Regions from separate parts of the Homo sapiens genome. Here region 2 is linked to region 1. Evidence: fine-mapped expression QTL. A gene starts in region 1. The other region holds a variant in brackets. All regions are shown on one strand. Distances are between the middles of the regions. Region 1 holds the start of SESN2 (sestrin 2). Region 2 has its middle 16 kb from the start of MED18.

Region 1 (4,383 bases):
GTGACCAAGGGCATATGATTGTCAGGACATTTTGCTAGGTGACATAGAGCAGGAGATGGATGTCAAGATGTAGACCCTGCCAGCCAGGCGCGGTGGCTCATGCCTATAATGCCAGCACTTTGGGAGGCTGAGGCGGGCAGAGCACAAGGTCAGGAGTTCGAGACCAGCCTGATCAACATGGTGAAACCCTGTCTCCACTAAAAATACAAAAATTAGCCGGGTGTGGTGGCACTTGCCTGTAATCCCAGCTACTCAGGAGGCTGAGGCAGGAGAATTGCTTGAACCTGGGAGGCAGAGGTTGCAGTGAGCCAAGATCGGGCCACTGCACTCCAGCCTGGGAGACAGAGTGCGACTCTGTTTAAAAAAAAAAAAAAAAAAAAAAAAAAGATGTTGACCCTGCCCTCAAGGAGTTTACAATTAAAAAGATCAGATAAGCCAGACTCAGTGGTGCACACCTGTAACCCCAGTGATTGATTTGGGGGGCTGAGGAGGGAATATCGCTTGAGCCCAGGAATTTGAAGCTGCAGCGTGCTATGATCATGCCACTGTACTCCAGTCTGGGTGACAGAGCTAGACCCCATCTCTAAAAAACAATACTAATAAAAAGAAAAAAGGGTCAGATAAAACATGTACATAGAAAATTACAATACAAGGCAGAATGTGGCTGGACATGGTGGCTCATGCCTATAATCCTAGCACTTTGGGAGGCTGAGGTGAGAGAATCGCTTGAGCTCAGGAGTTTGAGACCAGCCTGGGCAACATATTGAGACCCTGTCTCTATTTACTAAAAAACAAAAAACAAAAACAAAAAAACAGAAAACAAAAAAACAAAAAACAAAAAAAACTAGGTAGAATGTGATACATGTGAAAAGAGATCCAGCTCAAGTGCCTTGGGAGCTCAGGGGAGGGTGAGATTAATCTCTTTTTCCCAAGAATCTGGAGGCAGGAAACCAAGTCGGTTTCATCTTTGGAATTGTAAGCTTAGACTTAGAAGTCTCAGAGGGGGACTTGGGGGTCTTATCCACCCTCACCCCTGGCAGGATTCCCTGTCTAGAATAAACAATAACTTTAAAATGGAAACAAAAAAAGGAGCTCTGAAGGAAAACTGTGAAGGAAGAGGCTCCGTTTGAAATGAATAGAAAATGAATTTAGCTTGGAGGTGCTGAGGTGTTGGTAGAGGCAACTTTCTGGCAAGAGGCGAGTTGAAGGCCAGGAAGTGAATGAGATCAGGGAGAGTGTCTGGAGGGAAGAGGGGCAAAAACAAACTGGGGAAGCACCCACGTTTTAGGAAGTGGGTGGTGAAAGAGGAGTCAGAGAAGGCCAGAGGGAGAGGTGAGCAAAGATCCAGCAGAACACCTTGTTACAAAGTTTCGAGGAGGGTGGGAGGGGTGGAAGCCAGGACGGGTAGCAGAAGGAAGAAAACTTCCAGCAATAGGGATTGAGGTTCCACACGAAGTTACCAATGACATTTCAAGGAATGAAGGCTTTTCCTGAGGCTCCACAAATAAGGTGAATTCCCTGTGTCTCGCATCTTTGGAGCTTCCCCGAGGCCAGGGGGAGCAGGGTTGTGCCCTCTGACCTCTAAATATCTGGGGTTCAGTTCTATAATTAGCAGCACCGGATAGGACGCGAGCCAAACCTCTCTTAACCCTAGCCAGTCCCTCCAGGAACTGAAAAGATGAAGAATTCATTTAGGAGATTTCACACTCGGCTGTTTGGCCTAGCCCAGTGAAGTCCCTTTTCATCACGCAACCCTAATGACTCTTAGGGCTGTCACTGCCGTCTGGTGTTGCCAGGGATCTGACTAAACCGTCTTGCAAAAGTTTGCAGCATTCACCCGAGGCGGACTACAACTCCCAGAATTCCGGGCGCTCCCCGGTGCTGATTGGCGGAGCCCGTGACTCCAGGGGGCGGAGTTTCCCCCGCCTCCCCGGGGAAACAGACCTCTGATTGGCTGGACCGCCGGGCTTTTGTGTCCCCGCCCTCCCCCGGGGACCGCAGCGGGCTGAACTGCTGGTGTCAGAGCCCGGCGAGCGCTGGCAGTTCCGCGGCGGGGATGCTGAGGAGCGCTGGGTCCGGGAGCAGCCCTGGCCCCTGCGGACTTCCGAGGCCGTGAAAACCCCTGCGCTGCGGCCCTTCCCAGGCCCCCGAGGCCGTTCGCCGTTCCCGAAGCCCGACTGGGGGAAGAGTCCAGCACCAAAGCGGCCGTTCTCGGATTCCGGAGCGTTCTGGAGCCCCGAGAGACGCCCCGGGGTTCTAGAAGCTCCCCGGCGGCGCCCAGTCCCGGCTTCATTCGGGCGTCCCTCCGAAACCCACTCGGGTGCACGGGTCGTCGGCGAGCCGCGACCGGGTCCTGGCGCGCACCATGATCGTGGCGGACTCCGAGTGCCGCGCAGAGCTCAAGGACTACCTGCGGTTCGCCCCGGGCGGCGTCGGCGACTCGGGCCCCGGAGAGGTAAGCGGCGGCCGCGCGACGCCCCTCTTCCCTGGAACCCCGAACCGCGTCTGAGCCTCAGGCTGTCCGGAGCTGAGTCGGTGTGTCCTGGGCTCGGGGAGGGAAAGCCGAGCGCGTAACCCGGGACCCGGGTTGCATCAACTGGCAGCCGCGGCCCTCGGCACCCCTCCCCCACTCTGTCTCCCCTCTCCCTCCTTCTCCCCCTCCCTCTCCCCCTCCTCCCTCCCTCTCCCCCTCTCCCTCACCGCCCCACCCCAGGGCCGCGGATCCTTCCTCGGCTCCCTCGGACTCCTGGCCAATGAGGGAGAAGCCTTCTGGAGGCTCTCCGAGCTTTGGGCTCCTGAGCGTCTTCAAGTCCAGGCAAATCCCGGCCGGAGCGGCCAGACCACTCCTCCTCCCCGCCCCCTTCCGCGGAGTCCCTTCCTCTTCGCGGGGGCCGGCGGGCAGAGGACCCTTCCTGGGGTGCCTCCCGGCTCCTGTCCCCCAGCGCGGGGCGTAGGCACCTGGGACTGGCCAGTGAAAGTCGACCTCATCCTATGTCCACCGCACTCCTGCTTTGGAGGGAGAGCGCAGGGGCTCTGGGGGCTTGGCGGGCCGCCCGGTACGCGGCGGCGGCAGCCAAAGCTGGGGGGAGAGGGGACAACCCTGGTCGCGGCTTCCGAAGCCAAGCGCGGGTTAGGCTGCGCCCTGCTAAGTAAGTGGTCTGAAGGCCCAGAAGTTTGTTTTCCAGAAATTCCTCCCCCACCCTCCCTTCGCGCCGCTCCCCTCCACCCCCCCGCATTCGCATCCCGGCATAGCCCGCAGGGGCTTTGCAGGGAGACCGGGAATTAGGCTGGACCTAACCAGACTGACAGTTCGCACTCCCCCACCACTACCAGCAGCAGCGATAATGGACATCTTATCATTTATTATGCACCTACTAGATACCAGGCTCTGAGTTTTTTTCGCCTTTAACCTAAGTCCTCAGGACTAAACCAGCAATACAAGCTACGCTATAGCCCCATTTTACAGGAAGAACATTGAGGCCCACGATGGGCTCAGAAAGAGGCTTTCTTCATTAACCCCACTGAATATCTTGTTCTTTGGCCTTATGATTTCGGAGATTGCACGGCACTAGGAGCTTCTAGTTGCTTTAGTTTACAGGCCTAGAGTGTGGTGGAAGTTGTATTCTGGACCTGGGATTTGGTGGAGTGCTATGACCCCAGGAAAATCCCTGCTTTTCTCTTAGTAACGTGGTTTCTGGGGATCCTACCTCCGTCGGTGTATAGTTTGTGCCCTGGTTTTTGTTAGCTTGCTTACCCTTCTCTGCCGTGATTTAGGAGCGCCATGTGGAGGAATGGCTCTTCTCCTGCAGCTTCTCAGCTGTGTGACTTCTTTGGAAAGATGGAAATAATGTTACTATTGAGAACACCTGAACACTAGAGAGCAAGAGTGCTGGGTTCATGTCCCAGCCCTCCTGCTAACTTGCAGTGTGTGGCTTAGCCAGTAATCACTTCTCTGATCTGTGGTTTCTTCCCATGGGGATTTTACAGTATCTCTAAGGGATTGTTGGGAGAATTAACTCAGAATACAAGCAAAAGCTGAAGCACTGTGACTGGAACATAGTAACTGCGTGATACTTGCTTGCTATTATCAGAACGTGGCCATGGCACGCACAGCTTTCTCCAGAGTGTCTCACAAGGGGGTGCCTGAGCCTGTTCCTGAGATCAGACACTGTACACCCCTCTCTGGGTCAGTGCCTGGTCTAGGGAGAAAAGGCTTTGAGGGAGGGATCTTTACACAGAAGCCATGTTTCCTCAGTGGAGAAAACTGCTGCTATCTGGGAGGTTTCTTTTTCTTATCTTTTTTTTTTTTTTTTTTTGAGATGGAGTCTTGCTCTGTTGCCCAGGCTGGAGTGCAGTGGCACGATCTCAGCTCACTGCAACCTC
Region 2 (4,383 bases), 53 kb after region 1:
ACCAGCCTGGCTAACATGGTGAAACCCCATCTCTACTAAAAATACAAAATTAGGCTGGGCGTGGTGGCTCACGCCTGTAATCCCAGCACTTTGGGAGGCCAAGGCAGGCGGATCACCTGAGGTCAGGAGTCCAAGACCAGTCTAGCCAACATGGTGAAACCCCGTCTCTACTAAAAATACAAAAATTAGCTGGGTGTGGTGTTGGGAGTCTGTAGTCCCAGCTACTCAGGAGGCTAAGGCAGGAGAATCACTTGAACCTGGGAGGTGGAGGTTGCAGTCAGCTGAGATTGCGCCACTGCGCTCCAGTCTGGGTGACAGAGCGAGACTCCGCCTCAAAAAAAGAAAAAAAAATTAGCTGGGCATGGTGGCACATGCCTATAATCCCAGCTACTCAGCAGGCAAGGCTGAAGAATCGCCTAAACCTGGGAGGCGGAGGTTGCAGTGAGCTGAGATTGCACCATTGTGCTCCAGCCTGGGTGACAAGAGTAAAACTCCATCTCAAAAAAAATTAAAAAAAAAAATAATAATAATAATAATATGGGTACACTGAAGAAGACTTCAAAATTCACCAAGAATGTTTGGAATCTAATTTTTTAACCAACTTACTTTAGGGTCATTTTTAGCGTACGTGGATCTTCCTGGTTCTCAATTTGACACCCTCTCTAAACATGAATGAGTTTAAATCATATTCATTCCTAAGCAATCACACTCAAGAATAAGTACAGATGTGTGGAATATGCCAATACCTTTAACTCCAGATATCGTGTTCTCAAGATAAAAGCCTTTAAAACAAAAAGCCATCTTATGTATCAAGTCAGCATGAAATTGAAATACAAAATTAATATAGCTGAGGTTTTCCCTCATATCCTATGCTTTTAAATTATCTATTCTACAATCCTAGAATCAACATTTTTTTATTAAGAGACAGGGTCGGCCGGGCATGGTGGCTCACGCCTGTAATCCCAGCACTTTGGGAGGCCGAGGCGGGCAGATCACCTGAGGTTGGGAGTTTGAGACCAGCCTGACCAACATGGAGAAATCCCATCTCTACAAAAAATACAAAATTAGCTGGGCGTGGTGGCACATGCCTGTAATCCCAGCTACTTGGAAGGCTGAGGCGGGAGAATCGCTTCAACCTGGGAGGCGGAGGTTGCGGTGAGCCGAGATCCCGCCATTGCACTCCAGCCTGGGCAACAAGAGCCTGAAACTCCATCCCAAAAAAAGAGACAGGGTCTGTCTTTGTTGCCCAGGCTGGAGTACAGTGGTGCCATCAAAGCTCAGCACAGCCTCCAACTCCAGAGCTCGATCCTCCTGCCTCTGCCTCCCCTTCCTGAGCAGCTGCAACTACAGGCACATGCCTCGATACCCAGCCAATTAAAAAAAAAAAACAAACTCATACTGAACAATGAGTTCTGGGATGCAAAACAGGATTTATTTTTTGTACTTATCCATAAATATATATATATAAGTGCGTGCTGGTTGCTTTTTGTTGTTGTTGTTATTAGACCTCAAGACCATTGGGAATGTTTTTTTGTTTTTGTTTTTGTTTTTTTGAGACGGAATCTTGCTCTGTCGCCCAGGTTGGAGTGCAGTGGCAGGATCTCTGCTCACTGCAAGCTCCGCCTCCCGGGTTCATGCCATTCTCCTGCCTCAGCCCCCCAAATAGCTGGGACTACAGGCGCCTGCCACCACGCCCGGCTAATTTTTTGTATTTTTAGTAGAGACAGGGTTTCACCGTGTTAGCCAGGATGGTCTCGATCTCCTGACCTCGTGATCCACCCGCCTCAGCCTCCCAAAGTGCTGGGATTACAGGCATAAGCCACCGCACCCGGCTTATGTTTTTGTATTTTTAGTAGAGACGGGGTTTCACCGTGTTAGCCAGGATGGTCTCGATCTCCTGACCTCATGATCCACCTTCCTCGGCCTCCCAAAGTGCTGGGATTACAGGCATGAGCCATCGCGCCCGGCCTGGAATGGGTGGTTTTTTTACTACCTCTGGGTGAATGAGAAAGTACACTACAATAGCAAGAGAGCAGGAAGGGCAATTTATTATTTCTTTTCTTTTTTCTTTTTTTTTTTTTTTTTTGAGACGGAGTTTCACTCTTGTTGCCCAGGCTGGAGTGCGGTGGTGTGATCTCGGCTCACTGCAACCTCCGCCTCCTGGGTTCAAGCGATTCTCCTGTCAGCCTCCCGAGTAGCTGGGATTACAGGCACTCGCCACTACGCCTGGCTAAGTTTTGGTATTTTTTTAGTAGAGACAGGGTTTCACTATGTTGACCAGGCTGGTCTTGAACTCTTGATGTCAGGTGATCCGCCTGCCTCAGACTCCCAAAATGCTGGGATTATAGGCATGAGCCACCGCACCCAGCCAGGAGGGGCAATTTCCATTTGGAGTGAAGGAAGGGGCAGATTTGGGCGCAGGATTCTAATAATTGTTTATGAAGAGTTTCT[A/G]TGTTTCATGAATTTTACATCTTTTATCTCTAAAAGACAATTTTGGCTGGACACAGTGGCTCTCACCTGTAATCCCAGCACTTTAGAAGGCTGAGGTAGGAGGACCACTTGAGTCCAAAAGTTTGAGACCAGCTTGGGCAACATAGGGAGATCCTATCTCAATTAAAAAATGAGCCAGGCTTGGTGGCACATGCCTGTGGTCCCAGCTACTCAGGGGGTGGACTGAGGTAGGATGATCGCTTGTGCCTGGGAGGTTGAGGCTGTAGTGAGCCAAGATAGCGCCACTGCACTCCAACCTGAGCAACAGAGCAAGAGCCTGTCTCAAAAAAATAAATAAAATAAAAATAAAAAGGTGGGCATTTTATAGAATAAGGAAGTTTAAATCTGAAAGGATTAAGCCACTTGCCCAAAGTCTTATAGCCAGTGAGAAGCCAGAGCCAGGATGTGAACTCAGGTCTGCATGATATGGATGCCAAAAGCCCAGGTCCTGGCCACCGTGCCAAGCTGCCTCTTGAGAAATAGGAGCTCCCCAGCCTCTAAAACATTACCCTCTTCCTGACATTGGCCCTGGAAGGTTGTTAGACCAGAACAACAACCAGGAGATGTTGCATGCAACTTAGGCACCCCACTTCAGTCATCTGTGATGCCTCAAGGACCAGAGTTCACAGTCTGTGCTTGGCACCCCCGTCAGAGCTTTGACAAGCAATGTGTTTGTTAGACATGTTGTCCTTTCCAGGCTCAACCAAACAGCTCCAGCCTGCCCGCGCTGACCAGCAGAGCAGGCCTCCAGGCTGAGTCACCGCCCAGGGGTGTTTCACAACCAACCTGTCTGTGCATTGAGGCAGCAGAGGCAGGAAAGGTCACTGGGTGGCCCATGTCACCTTGAGCTCCTGGACAGAAAGGTGGAGCCTGGCTCACCTGTACCCATCCAGTTCTCACCCGAGTTTTCTTTCTCTTCTTGTAGGCTCTCTCTTTAACCTGAGGTATTATCCTGAGCCAAGGGAAGTTTCAACAAGCTCCAGTTCCTCATCTGTAAGATGGGAACTACATACATATTTAAATTATTGTGCATCCTACATGCCCTGTATCATTTAATCTTTATAGCAAACCAGTGAGGTAGATGCTATTATTTCATTTTACAAATGCAGGTACTGAAGATCAGAGATGTTACGTCACTCACCAAAGTCACACAGCTGGTTAGCGCAGGGTCAGGAATCAACCCTAAGTCTGTATGACTAAAGAGTGTGGGTTCAGAAGGAAATGTTCAGGAGAAAAGTCTGGCTATGGCTCGGGGCCTGTAATTCCCTGCTGAGTAATTTAGGCAAGTCCCTTCCACTCTGTGGGTCACTCTGTGGGTCTTGGTTTCCCCATCCGTTCTGTGGGGTGGGAGATAGGAAGCTGGACTAATGAGGCTGGAGGCCTCTTTCGCCTTTAAGTCTATGGTCCTAAGATTTTACGCAGAAGGCCTTTCCCTCAGTCACGCCTAGAGTGTGGTCTTTGCTTCCCGTACAGCCCACTCTTGAACTTCCTCTGGGGGAAGAGCAGACAGCAGGAGATTTCCTAGCAAGCTGCAGCTCTTTTTTTTTTTTTTTTTTTTTTTTGAGATGGAGTCTGGCTCTGTCGCCCAGGCTGGAGTGCAGTAGCGCCATCTCGGCTCACTGCGAGCTCCACCTCCCAGGTTCACGCCATTTTCCTGCCTCAGCCTCCCGAGCAGCTGGGACTGCAGGCGCCGGCCACCGCGCCCGGCTAATTTTTTTGTATTTTTAGTAGAGTCGGGGTTTCTCCGTGGTCTCGATCTCCTGACCTCGTGATCCGCCCGCCTCGGCCTCCCAAAGTGCTGGGATTAGCAAGCTGCAGCTCTTGCACATGACAACTTTGTTGTGACTTCCACTGAGCCATGTCCACATCTGTGAAATTGGGATGACCATAGTA

Evidence for each region. PIP is the estimated chance that this variant, and not a neighbour inherited with it, causes the effect.
Region 2: its variant is fine-mapped to the expression of SESN2 in whole blood (INTERVAL, PIP above 0.99).

What each region holds. Positions count from the first base shown.
Region 1 is chr1:28,257,483-28,261,865 of GRCh38, forward strand. It overlaps SESN2 (sestrin 2), which reads left to right and starts at 2,036. Exons shown (of 10, transcript NM_031459.5): 1 at 2,036-2,455. The coding sequence starts at 2,366. RefSeq lists enhancers at 1,607-1,786, 1,779-2,627 and silencers at 1,897-2,106, 2,887-2,946.
Region 2 is chr1:28,310,931-28,315,313 of GRCh38, forward strand. No RefSeq gene overlaps it. Among named protein-coding and RNA genes, the nearest start is that of MED18, 16 kb to the right of the region's middle. RefSeq lists an enhancer at 2,707-3,207. The variant A/G (reference allele first, on the strand shown) is at 2,452.